4 linked regions of the Homo sapiens genome follow. The protein of the gene in region 2 purifies or fractionates together with the protein of the main gene of each other region. This does not show direct contact. Each region holds a gene or a part of one and is shown on either strand. Other genes may lie near its edges.

Region 1 (3,844 bases), on a different chromosome or scaffold from region 2:
GTATTTTTTAGTAGAGACGGGGTTTCACCACGCTGGCCAGGCTGGTCTTAAATTCCTGACCTCAGGTGATCCGCCTACCTCAGACTCCCAAAGTGCTGGGATTACAGGCGTGAGCCACCGCGCCCAGCCTATTCATTCATTTCTTATCCATCCACCTACCTATCCATCTGTTCATCCGTCCATCTATTTATTCATTCATCTACTCATTCATTCATTCATCCACTTATTCATTCCTTATCCATCCACTCATCTATCCATCCATCCATCCATCCGTTTATCCATCCACTTATCCATACATCCACTATTCATTTGCCCATTCATTTATTCATGATCCATTCATTCACTCATTCATTTATCTATTCATTCATTCATTTATTCCTTATCCATCCACTCATCCATCCATCCGTTCATCCTTCAATCCATCCATTCAGTCATCCACCCATTTATCAATACACCCACTATCATTCACCCATTCATGTATCTATTCATTCAATCATTTATTCCTTATTCATCCACCTATCTATCCATCTGTTCATCCATCCATCCATTTATTCATTCATCTACTCATTCATTCATCCATCCAATCATCCCTTCATTCATTCATTCATCCACTCATTCATTCCTTATCCATTTACTCATCTATCCATCCATCCATCCATCCATCCATTCATCCATTCATCCACTCTTCATTCACCTGTCTACATATCCATCCATCCACTCACTAATGTACTAATCCACTCATTCACTCATTCATTCATTTATTCATTCACCCATCTATTTATGCAGCCATCCATTCAACCATCCAACAAACAGTACTGAGGCCATGTTAATCTATTCTGGTCTCTCATCTACAAAGTCACAGCCCCTACAGGGACCCTGCTCATTCATTCCCTGTGGCTGAGACTGAAGGGGTATCTCCTGTTTCTATTCCACGTGTGGCCACCTGCTGGTCTGTCCCTGTCCTGAGTGCAGGAGTAGTCTCATTCTCCTCCACCCCAAGAACAGATGAGTGATAAATAAATACCTGGAGACAGAATGCCTCCAACCCCAGGGTAATAGCCTGAGTATCCTAGAAGTTTCCTGTGTTCATGCCAAGAGCTTGTGATGGACATATGGACACTGTAGATGGACAACAGCGCCTTCACTGAGCAGCTAGTGCCTGGGAGGCCTCCAGCTTCACTGAGCCTCAGGTTTCATCTATTGCATCTCACAGAGAGGCTGTCTGCAACATGCCCATTTCAACCACTGGCTGAGAGGCTCATGCAGGTATGCATGTGACAGGGCTCCTTGCTGGAGAGTGGGTTCCTGGAGATTCCATCAGAGCTACTGCTGCACAACTGCCCCTTGAGGAGGCCATCACAGCTCTGAGCAGCAGGCGCTGCCAGTCAGCACCGTGTGAACTCAAAGTCTTGCATTCATCCTCATACGACATCTTCAAAACCACTTTAAACGTCCCAGGGAAGCCCGGAGGAGCAAGTGCTTCCAAGAGGCTGGCTCTGGTCTTTGGATTGAGTGTGGATTTGAGTCTCTTTGAATGAGTGTGGATTTGAGTTTCTTTGAATGAGTGTGGATTTGAGTCTCTTTGAATGCGTGTGGGTTTGAGCCTCTTTGAATGATTGTGGACTTGAGTCTCTTTGAATGAGTGTGGATTTGAGTCTCTTTGAATTCGTGTAGGTTTGAGTCTCTGAATGAGTGGACTTGAGTCTGTTTGAATGAGTATGGATTTGAGTCTCTTTGATTGCGTGTGGGTTTGAGTCTCTTTGAATGAGTGTGGATTTGAGTCTCTTTGAATGAGTGTGGACTTGAGTCTCTTTGAATGAGTTGGATTTGAGTCTCTTTGAGTGTGGATTGGAGTCTCTGAATGTGCGTGGATTTGAGTCTCCTCATTCCTGCACTTTTTCAGTTCCCTTTGTTGCATGGGACAGTATAAATGACGCTCCCCATTGATCCAGTTTTGCAAGTAAAAATGTCACATGTGGAAGCCAGCATTTAGTCCTCGGGCAGATAAGCATGTTTGATGAGAATAACACGTACACACAGCGGGGCCCTTGGTCTTGGAAAGGTGGAGAATAAATCCTCCATTTCCCCTGAGACCTGACCTGCACAGGGAATATCTGCTTAATCTACACATGTGTGGCTTGTAACGACAGAGTCTCTTCAATTCTACTTACTTTATTATAGTAACAAGAGCATGCATACAGCACATTGGGAGATGGAGAAATGGAAGGAAGTGATCCAGAGTCCCTTGACCCAGCCCATTCTCTCCCTGAGACCTGGGGGATGGGACATGATCTTGCTTCTCCTTCCAGGTCTCTGGAAGGATCATCTTGTCTTATCTTGCCTGCCTCTCACCCTGTGGTTCAGAATTGCGGGAGATTCTGTTCCAGTGGGGATGCTTGTCTATATCTTGGGCAGTTTGGGGTGTCACAACTGGAGGGTGTACTCCTGGGGCGTGGTGGGTGGAGCCTGGGAAGATGCTCAGTGCCCTGCAGTGCACAGGATAGGCTCAACACAGAGAATCCTCCAGCCCTACATGGCAGCAGTGCTGAGGCTGACACCCTGCCTGAGCATGAGAGAGTCTCTGTTAGTGACTATCTATCCATCTATATCTATCTATCATATCTATCATTTATCAATTTATCTATATATCATATCTAGCTCTCTGGCACCTATATCTATTTATTTATTAATCTTCTCTGTCTGTCATCTATCTATACCTTTCTAGCATTTATCTCTCATCTCTATCATTTATCTGCCTACCATTTGACAGTGGTTTCAACTAGGGGTGATTTTTCTCATCACGGCACACTGGGTAATGTCTGAGGACAGTTCTGGTTGTCGCAACTGTGGGGGTGCTCCTGGCATCTGGTGGGTGGATCCCGGGGATGCTTCTCAATACCTTACACTGCACAGGATGGCCCCACCACAGAGAATCACCCGGCCCCAAATGTCTATAGTGTTGACGTGGAAAGATCCTGCTTTTAGTATAGAGAATCTCTCCTCTCTCTCTCTCTCTCCGTCATCCATCTATGTATCCATGTATCTATGTATCTATGCATCTATGTATGTATGTATGTATGTATGTATGTATGATCTATCTATCTATCTATCTATCTATCTATCTATCTATCTATCTATCTATCTATCTATGTATCCATGTATCTATGTATGTATCTATCTATCTCTATTACCTATCATCACCATTATCTATCTATCTATCTATCTATCTATCTATCTATCTATCTGTCATCTATCTATATGTATGTACATATCTATCTATCTTATCTATTGCTCATCTATCTAGGTATCTCTCTAATCTATCATCTATCTCTCTAATCTATTAATGCACCTATGTATGTATCTATGTATCTATCTATCTAATCTATTTATCCATGTATGTATGTATGTATCTACCTATCTAATCTATGTATGTATGTATATATGTATCTAATTTATGTACGTACATATGTATGTATCTATTCTATCTATGTATCTATCTATCTGATTGATCTATCTCTCTATCATCACCATTATCTATCTATATGTATGTGTGTATCTATCTATCCTATCTATCTATCTCTCATCTATCTATGTATCTCTCTAATCTATCATCTATTTAATCTATGCATCTATATATCTATCTATCTAATCTATTTATCCATGTATGTATGTATCTATCTAATCTATGTATGTATATATCTATCTAATTTACGTATGTATCTTTTCTATCTATCTCTATTATCTATATATCTATCTGTCTATCATCACCATTATCTATCTATATCTATGTATGTATTGTCTATTCTATCTCTCATCTATCTATATATCTCTTTAATCTATCATC
Region 2 (3,844 bases):
AAAGATATTTCACTATGATATTAAAGGCAGGTATGTTAGTCAACAGTAAAAAGAGAAAGTACATAGGAAGAATGAGGTAATGGTCACTTGAGGACAATGAGAAGGAAAGACTAAGCAACAGAGAAATGCAGCTGGAAAGACAGATATGCACATATAAATATCGCCTCTGTACACATCTTATCCATGCGGTGGTTTAAGCTCACTCAGAAATTTTCTATATTTCCTTACCAGATCTCAACAAAGAGTGGGGCTTTGTATCTCACCACTTCTCAGTGCTGCATGGTATTTTAAAATGTTTGTCAATACATTGACAGACTAGTAAGGAATATTCATAATTTGTGTGTCACCAATCTTGTTTTATCTATATTAGAATTAGATAAAACTAAAAAGAGAAAAATGCACATAACATGGTCTGGTCTTTAGCAATAGAAATATTAATCACATGTACATACTATACATATAAATAAATAATCAGCTTATATTATTTATTTTTTCAATATCTTAAATATTCAAATCTTTGTTTTGAAAGCACATACCAACAAAAACATTGACAGACTGTTTAAAATAAAGAAAAATATGATTCCTACCATTCTTTTCATTTGTCTGGTACATCGGGCACAATACCACACCAGGCGAGGGTCATTCGCTTCCTTGTCTGTCACCTGGGGTTTATGACAATCTCGGTGGTAGAGATTATGGCACTCCTGACATTCTACTAATTGATTGCCAGATGCCACCATCATTTGCCTAAGAAAACATACCATTAAACATTACACTACTTTTTTAAATGCCATAATTTAAAGTTATTTCAGGGGCCAGGTGTGCTGGCTCATGCCTGTAATCCCAGCACTTTGGGAGGCCAAGGCAGGCGGATCATTTGAAGTCAGGAGTTCAAGACCAGCCTGGCTGACACGGTGAAACCCTGTCTCTACTAAAAATACAAAAATCAGCTGGGCATGGTGGTACACACCTATAATCCCCACTACTCAGGAGGCTGAGGCAGGAGAATCGCTTGAACCCAGGAGATGGACGCTGCAGTGAGCCAAGATCATGCCACTGCACTCCAGCCTTGGTGACAGAGTAAGACTCTGTCTCAAAAAAAAAAAAAAAAAAAAAAAGTTATTTCCAGGTTGTTCTGGTAAAGTTTGGTATATTAAAAAGAAAAAAAATCCCAGAAACCCAAAGAGCAAATAACAAACCCCAACACTTGGCATGCACAAAAGCATAAGCTTTTAAAGCTTATGGTCAACCATTAATAAATATATAGAATGCCTTAATTAAATTTGGCTATTTTCTCGTCATTTCTCGTCATAATTTTTGCCTTTCTCTCAGAAGGTAGTAGACTCTGATTAGTCTTCCAACAGCCTCATAACATTTTGTATCTCCATTAAATTCCCTTATATTAGTTAGCTGTATGTTGTTGTTGTTCTTCATTAATATGAGTCACCTAAAGGTGAGTACTGGACCTAATTATCCACAGTCCTTAGCACATTACTGTGCACACATAGGGTGCTCAATAAATGTCTGATCAGATTAATAGAATGAAGCCATGTGTGTATAAAAAAGTATAAATTTCAACAGCACAAAAAGCAATCACCATAGCCTTAGATTATCAAAGGCATATATATCATAATATAATAATCACTTTCCCTCTGGAACCCAAAAATGCAGAAAATGTTACAACATAACAGATTTAAAAGCCATAGTTGGGAAAGACAAAATAGTTGACAATTTTCAATATGCTAAATTGTTATATGGGCAGTTACCTACTTATCTCCACCCCAGTTCCAAATAGTAAAAACAAAATAGAAAATGCACAACAATTTTTCTGATTTTGGGGGTTGAGGAGTGGAAAGGGTCATGTGTTCTTTATAAAGTAACAAAAGAATCTGTGGCAAGGTACAACTTACCTACAAACAACGCAGGCCAATCCCATCTCCATGGCAAAATCATCAGCACTGGTCTCCTCAAAACTGGAAAGGTCAGCCATAGGTAAATCCTTGCTACTTTGGACAGTAATGGGAGATGACTGTGTTTCTGGTTTCTCCAATCTAGGTTTCTTTGGAATATCAACTCCTTCAGTGATGTCTGATTTCATCTATAAAAAGCAGGCATCAGAAAATGATAAAGTAATGTGGTAGAATAAACTTTAAGTCACTGAAAGACGAGTGAGAAGGACAATTGGCAATGAACAAGTCCATTTTACAGATATATTCACATAGTTAGGGACAGATGTGCACATTAAAGATCTGTAGAAGAATTGCAATGAATTTATTAGTATATTAAATGAAACCAGCAAGATAGAAATAAATAAATCAGAACAGTTTAACAAATATTTGTATTTCTCTTTGTACTCTTCTATCTACTAAAGAATTATGGAAGATCGATGGATTTACTTAGACTAGTATCTACCATACAGACTTAACACATATTTGCTTCAAAGCAAATTCGGATTCCCTTCTTTAAGATATAAATATTATCAATATACCCATTAGATTTGGCAAAAATCAAAAAGTCTGATAAGACATGGAATTTGGAATTCTTATACTTTGTTGATGACAGTGTAAATTTAGTACATCTACTTTTGATAGAAATTTGGCAATGCCTAGTAATGTTGAAGATGTCATATCCTATTATATTCACTTATAGGTATACATCCTATAGAAACTATTAACATGACATATGTATAAAGTAGCTCACTCAAACTCCATTGTAATAGAAACAAAGGAGAAATATCTAATTGTGCATCAGTAGGGGAATGATAAACTGGTTAATCATTCCCCTATGATAAATCAGTAGGGGAATGATAAACTGGTATTATGTAGTAGCTAAAAGAAATCTAGATCTACATGCATTAACAAAGATACATTTCAAAAGCACATAGTTGAGTGGAGAAAAAGTTACCAAAGGATATACACACACACAGTATGATAACATTTACATAATTTTTTTTTTAAGACAGAGTCTTGCAGTGTTGCCCAGGCTGGAGTGCAGTGGCACAATCTCTGCTCACTGTAACCTCCGCCTGCTGGGTTAGAGTGATTCTCACGTCTCAGCCTCCTGAGGTGCTGGAACTACAGGTGTGCGCCACCACACCTGGCTAATTTTTGTATTTTTAGTAGAGAGGGGGTTTTGCCATGTTGGCCAGGGTGGCCAACTCCCGACCTGCTGACCTCAAGTGATCCTCCTGCCTTGACCTCCCAAAGTGCTGGGATTACAGGCATGAGCCACCACACCCAGCTTCACTTATGTAGATCTAAAAACAGAGAAATAATCTAATGTAGTTTATGAATAGCCACTATTTAGCAAAAGTATGAAAACATACGGGATAATATACTCCATCTTGAGGGCAAGGGTTACTGAAGATATCTTTCAAATGTATTTTTTTCTAACTACTAAAATCTTAATTACTATATGTAGAAATCATCTAAAAATAGACAATCCAAGAATCATCTTTGGCACTGTTCAGGTGCATACCACTCTATAAAGTTTATGTTTAGTCATTTACATCTATACTCTTTCCCATCTTTTCTTTCTTGCTTTCCTTTTTTTTTGAGACAGCGCCTCACTCTGTCACCCAGGCTGGAGTGCAGTGGCACGATCACCGCTCACTGCAATCTCTGCCTCCTGGGCTCAAGCAATCCTCCCACCCCCCACCCGCCCACAAACAGCTGGGACTACAGGTGCATGCCACCACACCCAGATGATTTTTGTATTTTTTGTAGAGATGGGGTTTCATCATGTTGCCCAGGCTGATCTTGAACTCCTGAGCTCAAGCAGTCTACCTGCCTCGGCCTCCCAAAGTGTATCTATCTTTTCTTCTTAACAACTGTTCCATCTAGGA
Region 3 (3,844 bases), on a different chromosome or scaffold from region 2:
GATGGGACACAGTATGGCCAGGCCAGGCGGAGCAACCCCTCCTCAGTGCTGGGTCATCTGTGAAAGGGACACGGAGTGGGCAGTGATCCCCAGGCCCTGGTCCCGCACAGCCCGGTCTCCCCCACAGCGCCTTCCCCCTCTCACCTTGGCCGGGCTCGGGGGGTATCTGACCTTCAGGCCTTCATCATTCATCAGAGGCCTCACCAGGCAAGAGCGGCGGTGAGAGAAAGTCTCGAAGCTCTTCTTGCCATGGTAGGATCCCATGCCGCTGTTCCCTGCGGAGGAGAAGTAAGCACAGGGCTCAGCATCCTGCCCCCAGGACGCCCCAGGTTTCCCTCTCCACCTTGTTGGGTGTATCCCAGAACCACAGGGACAGGGAGGCAGAGCCCCAGCCACCATCACCCATCCTTCCCTCAAATCCTATGGCCCTCAGCACCCAGCCCCAGGTTGTGGCCCTTTTCTGGGCCTCCTGAGGGTGGCCAATGTCTAGGGTGTCCCCAGGGCATCCACACTGTGGGAGTGCCCAGCAAGGGTCTAATCCCAGCTCTGCCACTAAATGGCTGTGTGACCTCTGGCCTGGGTCACCTTTCTCAGGCCTCCATGAAATAGGCCGGTGCACCAGGTGACCTCTAGGAACCTCTAGGCTCCCAGGTTAAGTGTGTCTGATGGATGGCACGCAGAGGCCAAGGTCCAAATGGAAGAGGCTAATGGGAGGCTGCCGCCCGGGCTGCAGGAGGTGGTCCCTCCTGAATTTGCTGGGTGAGTGTGCCCAGCCCTGGGGCCCAGAGGGAGGCAGCAAGCTCAGCCCCAGACTCACCCACGCCCCCGAAGGGCAGAGAGTGCAAGGTGATGTGGACGATGACATCGTTGGCCGCCACCCCACCACTGGATGTCTCTGCAATCATCTTCTTAATCACCTGCACCAGGACCCAGCCACTGGCCTCAGTCTCCTGCCCACAGGATGCCCCAGCCCCCAACCCGACCCTGCCTGGGTATAGCCTGGAGCCACAAGGACAGGAGCAGGTGGAGGCAGAGCCTTAGCCTCCATCTCCTGCTCTTCCTGCAGACCGCGTGGCTGTCAGCACCACATGAGCAAAGAGTGACAGCAGCCGCCCCCATGCCTGTGTGCAGGGCCCTGGGCAAGGATCGCTCATTCAGTGCCCTCAGGTGATGCTGCTGTCCTGATCTTACAGACGAGGTGAAAGGAGCTCAGAAAGATCCAGTGACTTGCCCAAGGTCACACAGCCAGAGAACAGTGAAGCTGCAGTTTGAACCCAGGTCTGTGGGCCCCAGGACCCTGGCAGAGGGCACCCCAGGCCCACCACCCACCTTGTCGTTGCTGGAGAACATGTAGAGGGCCAGGGGCTTCTCACGCTGGTTGATGAACTGGATGGCCTCCTCCAGGCTGCGCACGCACACGATGGGCAGCACAGGCCCGAAGATCTCCTCTTGCATCACCGGGGACTGGGGGTCCACGTCCGTGAGGATGGTGGGGGCTGAGGCAGGAAACAAGCCAGAGTTGGACGGCGCAGAGACCCCCACGCGGATGGAAAGTGCAAGCACCTAGACCCCTGCTCCAACCCTTTTCCAGGCAAACCTGCCCAGGCTTGGAAAAGGGCAGGGACGAGGCCTCAGAGAGGTACCCTAGGCACCTGCGTCCTGGATGCCATCTGAGCAGACCACTGGGGACAACTATAGGTTAACCTGTACGGAAGGACCCGAGATCTGTCTCCAGGAGCAGGCACTGCACCTGCCGGCCACCTGATGCCCTGCCAGAATTCTCTTGTCTCCTTGACAAACTCGGGGCCAAGAGGGTCCCATCTGGTGACCCACAGCCTGGGCACTGGGGGCCCCTCACGGCTGGGCACACCTGGGGCTCCTGTGGCTTCTGCTGTCCCTGCTCCTGCTGCTTCAGAGGGGCAGGGAGATGAGGCCCCTCTTTCTGGGCCTTTGCTGGGAGAGGGGATTCTGAGGTTGAAGCAGGGGCTGTCCTCAGCCCCTGCCTGCTGGAGTCTACCGCAGGCTCCCTGGTGAAAGCAATTTATACCCATCCCGAGGTCGTGTCCGCTTATCAAGCATCTGTGCCCACTTGCTGTGAACTTGCTGGGGACCCCTGCAGCCTGGGCAGGTGGGCTGTGCTCTTCAGGGGTCACGCACCTATGTAGCGAGTGGCGGCATCCCCGGTGCCCCCATAAGCCACCTTCTGGCCCTCAATCAGGCCCATCACCCTCTGGAAGTGCCGGGCACTAATGATTCTTCCATAGTCCCGGGATTTCTTAGCATCTTCCCCGTAGAACTCCTGTGGAGAAGAGGTGGGGGCTTCGGGTAAGGACGCAGAGCCTCGTCCTGCCCAAAGGCTGCACAGACACAGGCCAGCAGTGTCTGTCTTTGGGTGGTGGGATTCTGGGTGGAGCTTTTTTCTTCTTTATGCTTTTTAATCTTTTCTAAATAATCTATAGTGAGTGTGCATTATCTTTTTTTTTTCTCTTAGAGACAGGGTCTTGTTCTGTTGCCCAGGCTGGAGTGCAGTGGTGCAATCATAGCTCACTGCAGCCTCAAACTCCTGGGCCCAAGCAATGCTCCAGCCTCGCCGTAGCCTTCTAAGTAGCTGAGACAACAGGCATGCACCACCATGCCACCATGCTTGGCTAATTTAAAAACATATTTTGTAAAGATGGGATCTTGCTATGTTACCCAGGCTGGTCTCAAACTTCTGGCCTCAAGTGATCCTCCACTCTCTACCTCCCAAAGTGCTGGGATTACCGGTGTGAGCCACCATGCCTAGCTTGCATTATGTTTATATTAGAAGAAAATAAATCCAGTGTTTCCAAATCTGTAGAAGTTGGTTAAGGGGCCAGGCCCCCCTTGTGCCTTACAGCCTCTCATCCCACCCTGCCAAGGGGTCAACACTCACTTTCAGTGACTTCTTGAGCTTCTCCACAATTTGGTTCTGGATCGAGGGGTCACAGAGGATGTAGTCAGGGGCCACGCAGGTCTGGCCACTGTTCATGAATTTCCCCCAGGCGATGCGTCTGTGAGAATCCCAGACTGGACTAAATCCAAAAGGTTCCCCAGGAGTTGCATCTCGTTTTGCAGACCCCTGAGCTCTCTGGTCAGCAGAAGCCATCGGCTGTGACCTTGCCACCAGTGAGTCCTCCCAAGCGGTCTGCTCACTTCTAGACACTGGACCGAGCAGACCCAATGGCCCTGATCATGTTCACCGGCGACTGGTGGGGAATTTCTAGAGGACGTCTGTTGAGGGCAACCTCCGTGCTCCCTGATCACGCCCTTGTCCTGCACAGCCAGGTGTCACTGCTACTCGGGCCCCCCTACATCTCTGGGGCCACAGATGTGGGATATGGAGGTGGTCAGAGCCCTGGCTAGGGTCAGGAGGTGCAGATACGGGTTCTGCCCCAGACCCCGAGCAGCGGTGGCCCTTCTCCCCTCTGGGCCTGCTCTCCAGAACTCAGATTGCCCTGCCCCATCAGAGGGCTGAACCCAGTACAGTTCCTTGTGTCCTGAACGTCCCACAGCTGCTTTTTCTGCAGCCTCTGCTTGGAGTACCACTTCCCCAGTGATGCGCACTCAGCAAACAGAGCTCAGCCTAGACCTCTCCCCCTCCAGGAAGCCTTCTGGGACTCCCCACACGTCTTCTGTGCATGTGGTCCCCACCCCTACCCCCATGTAAGTTTCTGCAAGGACCACTGCTCCATGAGGCAGGGGGTGTCTGTGTTACTCAGAGTGGACCCACAGCATGAGGTGCAGTCATGTGTGCTTGGAAAGCAGAGTAAGGACTGCTGCAGCCAGCAGGCCCGTGCCTCTCACCGGCAGGCCACGTCCAGGT
Region 4 (4,304 bases), on a different chromosome or scaffold from region 2:
GAACCCTTACCTCCCACTTTCCTAGGGGCTTGTCTTGAAACTCCCCAAGAAAGACAGTGCTCTCTTGCCCTGGGCCCTCAGGGGAGGGACCTCGTGCACAAAATCCACTGAGGACCAAACATGCCTGAGTGCTGCTGTGTTTCATTCCAGGGGAGCAGCGGGTCACCTGCAGGTGACAGACCCAGCCCTCCAGTCTCAGCCCTGCCTGCGGAGGAGTTGGGGCGGCCCGGCACCGCGCCCGGTTCACAGCGAGATGAGGGGCGATCCACCCGCAGCCACAGGGCCGGGCCCTGGAAGCTCCACTAGCATCAGCTGCGGCCATGGCACGGGCCCTGAGGGGCCAGCAGTGACCTGAGCACCAGGACCCTGGAGGTGACCCTGACACCTTGGGGCCTCGGCGAGGGCGGGCACTCACACGGTGACCTTGCACAGGTGGCAGAACTGATTCTGGATCACGTGTGCATGTTTTGATCTGTCGAAGAGGGGCATGGGCTGAGAATAGTTCTTCATGAGTCTGACATTGGAGTCGGCCGGGTCGATGCAGGACGCGATCAGGTGGACGACGAGGTGGAACGAGAAGATCCCCCCGGTCACCTGGCATGTCAAGGAAGAACCTGGCCCAGGGCCTGGTCAGCCTGGCACGAGGCGTCCCCGTGAGGCCCAAGGGCCCAGAAGAGGCGTGGCCGCTGGTCAGCCCTGCTCACCCAGCCCTGCACACGTGAGCCCAGCTCACCCAGGCCTGGCCCTGCTCACACAGCCCTGCACACCCAGCCCTGCACAACTGAGCCCTGTTCGCCTGGCCCTGCTCACCTGGGCGTGCTCACCTGGGCCTGCACACCCAGCCCTGCACAGCCAGCCCTGCACAGCCAGCCCTGCACACCCAGCCCTGCTCACCCGAGCCCAGCTCACCCATGCCCGGCCCTGCTCACATGGCCCTGCTCATCCAGTCTTGCACACACGGCCCTATACACCCGGCCCTTCACACATGGCCCTGCACACACAGCCCTGCTCACCCAGATCTAGAGGAGATGAGTCCACCCGTCGGCCCTGCACACACAGCCCTGCTTACCCAGGCCTAGAGAAGATGAGGCTACCCATTGGCCCTGCATACACAGCCCTGTGCCAGTCGGGGACCGGGAAGGCTGCCCCCGTGCCCCTTTTGGTTCATCCCTGTTGGACACAGGGCAAATCCCCCACAGAATGTACCGCACCCCCAGAGGCTCAGTCAGCCCAGCCAAGCACAGTGACCCCAAAACCCTTTACAGCTTGAGGGACAGAGCAGGGCCACAGGAGGGACATCCCAGGTATAAACACAGCCGGATGCAGCCCCAAAGGCCCTGGAGGAGCCTGGGTTCTTTCATACCAGAGACCCCTGAGCACTGGGAGAGAAGACAGCCTCAGACAGGAGGAGCAGGGGGAGGAGCGAGGGAGCTGCACAACCTACCCGCTCCCTGTAGACCCCAGACAGCTCACTCAGGGACCCTCTCCCCGAGAATAGCTCAGGGAAACCCCCCTCAGACTCCCTCAGGGCCCCTCCGGACTCTCTCGGGGACTCCAGACTCTCTCGAGGACCCCAGACTCACTCAGGGACCCTGGGCCTCTTTCTTGGGCCCTCTGGGCTCAGAGCCTGGCTGCGGGGGCACTGGGGAGAGGATCCTTGTCCCCTGGAGCCAGGAGAAGCTGGGCTCCCCGTGCCTGGGACGTCAGCTCCCGCCCTCAGATCCTGGCTCCCTCCTCCTCTCACCCTGGGACAAACACAGACTCTCCATGGCAACCAAATAGAAGGGGTGGAGTGCGGGGCCCTCCAGTCACCCTGCCTGGCCCCTGGACCGCCTTCTAGCCAGGAGTTCAGGGTTGACAGCCATCTCCGCAGGGCAGCCCAGAGGCCCTCGCAGTGTGGCCTAAGCTTGGCATGGAAACGCAGGCTGCCGACCTGCGGGGCATGGCGCTGTTCCTCCTTGGCACCAGGGGCAAGGAGAAAGGTGCTGGCCATGTGCAAAATGCTGCGCAGGGATTTTAGCGGAAGGCTGCCAGCAGGGCGGGTCCTGCGCCACGCCAGGGGGCTGCTGTCCCTCCTGACAGATTCCCTCTCCGGAGCCCCCTCAGCCAACGCTGTCCTGTCCTGACCCTAAGCAGGGGCTGCACAGAGCATGAGTGGCCACTGGGCCCACCTGCAGGCTCAGGGGACATAGTCTGGCCCAGGGCAGGTGACTGGTGCCACCGGGCAGCCATGGCCCAGACCCCACAGCCAGGTCCATCGCAAGTTCCTCCAGGAACCCCTCCCGCTTAGACCATGCCACGATGAAAAGGATACCACGTAGGCAATGTATTTCCACGCGTGAGGCAGGAAGGGAATGAAGATCCCGAAGGTGGCCGAGGAAAGGCCCACGAAGACAGCCCAGGTCACCACCTGGAAGTAGTGCAGGGGTAACGACCAGCCGTTCACTCTGGAGATGCGGGGCGGCAAGACCAGCTTTTCATTATTGAGTATGGCTTCTGGGGTGACGGAACACTGGCTCCCGGAGCGGGTGTCCATCTGCAGGACACAGAAGGGGAGGACCTGCGCCGTCAGATCCTGGGAGGGCCGGCCCCGCCCACTGTCACAGAGACCAAGGGGACTGGGAATGCAGCCGCCAGGACCAGCACTGACAGCCAATGGCCCAGCACTGCCTGGGGCCACGTTCCCCGCAGAGGGAGCAGGGGCTGGGCTGGAGTCGGTGCAGGGCCCCGCCCAGGGGAATGAACAGACATGCTGCAGAATGTGACCCCGGCCAGAGCCGAGTGGCAACGGAAAACGGCTCTCCAGGGTGTGGAGGACCCAGTGCCCGCGCGACCGCCCATCAGTTCCCCTGAGGATTTGTTACGTTCTGGGGAGTGCTCGACAGCCCCCACACAGCGACAGGTCCCACAACCCGTTCACGAATACACAGGCCCACCCAGGACTCCCCAGGTGCAAGAAGAAAACCCACGTCAGAAAGAGGCCACACTGAGCAGAGGGCTGCGCCTGTGAGAAACTGAGGCAATGCCTGAAGAGCTCGTGAGCCGTTACTCACTGGTGCAACACTGAAACCTGCCAGATCCTCCCTGAGAGGCTTCTCTGAGCTTCCCAGAGGAGCAGGACCCGAGAGCTCACTTCACAGGGTCCTGTGTGTCTCCCCTTCCACAGGACAGGGAAGCCCGTCCAGCCACGCGGGGCTGGGGTCTCCGCCCGGGTGGACAGTGGCTGGGAGGTTCTGAACACGCTGCGGCTGCTCCTGGCCAGTCAGGTGGGGAGGGCGGCAGGGGTGGGAGGGACGTGGTGTCACAGAGCGGCAGTGAAAGACACTCAACGGCCGCTACGGGGTGGGGGGTTGATCTTGAGGGGCTGGGCGGTCTCTACAGAGGAGGGTTAGGAAGCTTCGCCACGTTATGCCTCGCTCAAAGTCCTTGTTGTCTCTTTGGGAAAAAACCTTCAGAAAATGAAGTTGATATTAAATGTATTTCTTTGAGAAGAGAGACATTGAGAAATAGTTAACAATTCTTCGTTCTTGCAGTCGTGAACGTCCATGATACAGTGGCTCTGCGCTGCCTTTGGTGGCTCCTCCCTGGTCCTCTAAATGTGACACCAGGCGGATGCGGGGCCACAGGACCCTGGGGCTTGAGTCACACAAGAATGTCTCTGGGAGACCCGAGAGACTCACAGTTATGAAACAGGACCATGGTTCTTTGGCCGGGCGCGGGGGCTCACGCCTGTAATCCCAGCACTGTGGGAAGCCGAGGCGTGCCTATCACCTGAGGTCAGGAGTTCCAGACCAGCCTGGGCAACACGGCGAAACCCTGTCTCTACTAAAAATACAAAGATTAGCAGGGCATGGTGGCACATGCCTCTAATCCCAGCTACTCGGGAGGCTGAGGCATGAGAATCGTTTGAACCTGGGAGGTCGAGGCTGCAGTGAGCCAAGATTGCACCACTGCATTCCAGCCTGGGCAACAGAGGGAGACTCCATCTCAAAAAAAAAAAAAAGAAAGAAAGAAAAGTCAAAGTTACCAAGGAAGGAAATAGAAACACAGAAAGACAACCCTGTACATTAAAAACACAATTCCCAGTTAAAAACAAAACCCAAATGAAAGTGCCAACAAACAGAAATGATGTCGCCAAGTCACATTGGTAAAACCTGGAATATCAAATCCAGGAAGGACCACAGATCTTAGAGAGGAGAAGAGGGGAATCGCTCAGCGGCCTTGAGCCTTGAGCCTGGAGACAACACGTTCATCTGTCAGGATTTCAGAACAGAAAGGTGGAGAGTCTGTGAGAGAAAAAAGAA

The links. The genes of interacting proteins can lie anywhere in the genome.
Region 1: the proteins of INTS12 (region 2) and P2RY8 purify together in Homo sapiens (co-immunoprecipitation; one large-scale study listed by IntAct). This does not show direct contact.
Region 3: the proteins of INTS12 (region 2) and ALDH3A1 purify together in Homo sapiens (co-immunoprecipitation; one large-scale study listed by IntAct). This does not show direct contact.
Region 4: the proteins of INTS12 (region 2) and ZDHHC11 purify together in Homo sapiens (co-immunoprecipitation; one large-scale study listed by IntAct). This does not show direct contact.

What each region holds. Positions count from the first base shown.
Region 1 is NC_000023.11:1,527,066-1,530,909, forward strand, and holds part of P2RY8 (S-geranylgeranyl-glutathione receptor P2RY8), read right to left. Parts: intron 1-3,844. UniProt on the Homo sapiens protein: G protein-coupled receptor for S-geranylgeranyl-glutathione (GGG), an endogenous metabolite present in lymphoid tissues.
Region 2 is NC_000004.12:105,691,389-105,695,232, forward strand, and holds part of INTS12 (integrator complex subunit 12), read right to left. Parts: intron 2,099-3,844; coding exon 1,911-2,098; intron 748-1,910; coding exon 588-747; intron 1-587. UniProt on the Homo sapiens protein: Component of the integrator complex, a multiprotein complex that terminates RNA polymerase II (Pol II) transcription in the promoter-proximal region of genes.
Region 3 is NC_000017.11:19,738,179-19,742,022, forward strand, and holds part of ALDH3A1 (aldehyde dehydrogenase, dimeric NADP-preferring), read right to left. Parts: coding exon 3,826-3,844; intron 3,033-3,825; coding exon 2,915-3,032; intron 2,300-2,914; coding exon 2,158-2,299; intron 1,497-2,157; coding exon 1,330-1,496; intron 918-1,329; coding exon 818-917; intron 276-817; coding exon 145-275; intron 58-144; coding exon 43-57; 3' UTR 1-42. UniProt on the Homo sapiens protein: ALDHs play a major role in the detoxification of alcohol-derived acetaldehyde. They are involved in the metabolism of corticosteroids, biogenic amines, neurotransmitters, and lipid peroxidation.
Region 4 is NC_000005.10:848,067-852,370, forward strand, and holds the start of ZDHHC11 (palmitoyltransferase ZDHHC11), read right to left. Parts: upstream 2,921-4,304; 5' UTR 2,537-2,920; coding exon 2,315-2,536; intron 595-2,314; coding exon 416-594; intron 1-415. UniProt on the Homo sapiens protein: Endoplasmic reticulum-localized palmitoyltransferase that could catalyze the addition of palmitate onto various protein substrates and be involved in a variety of cellular processes.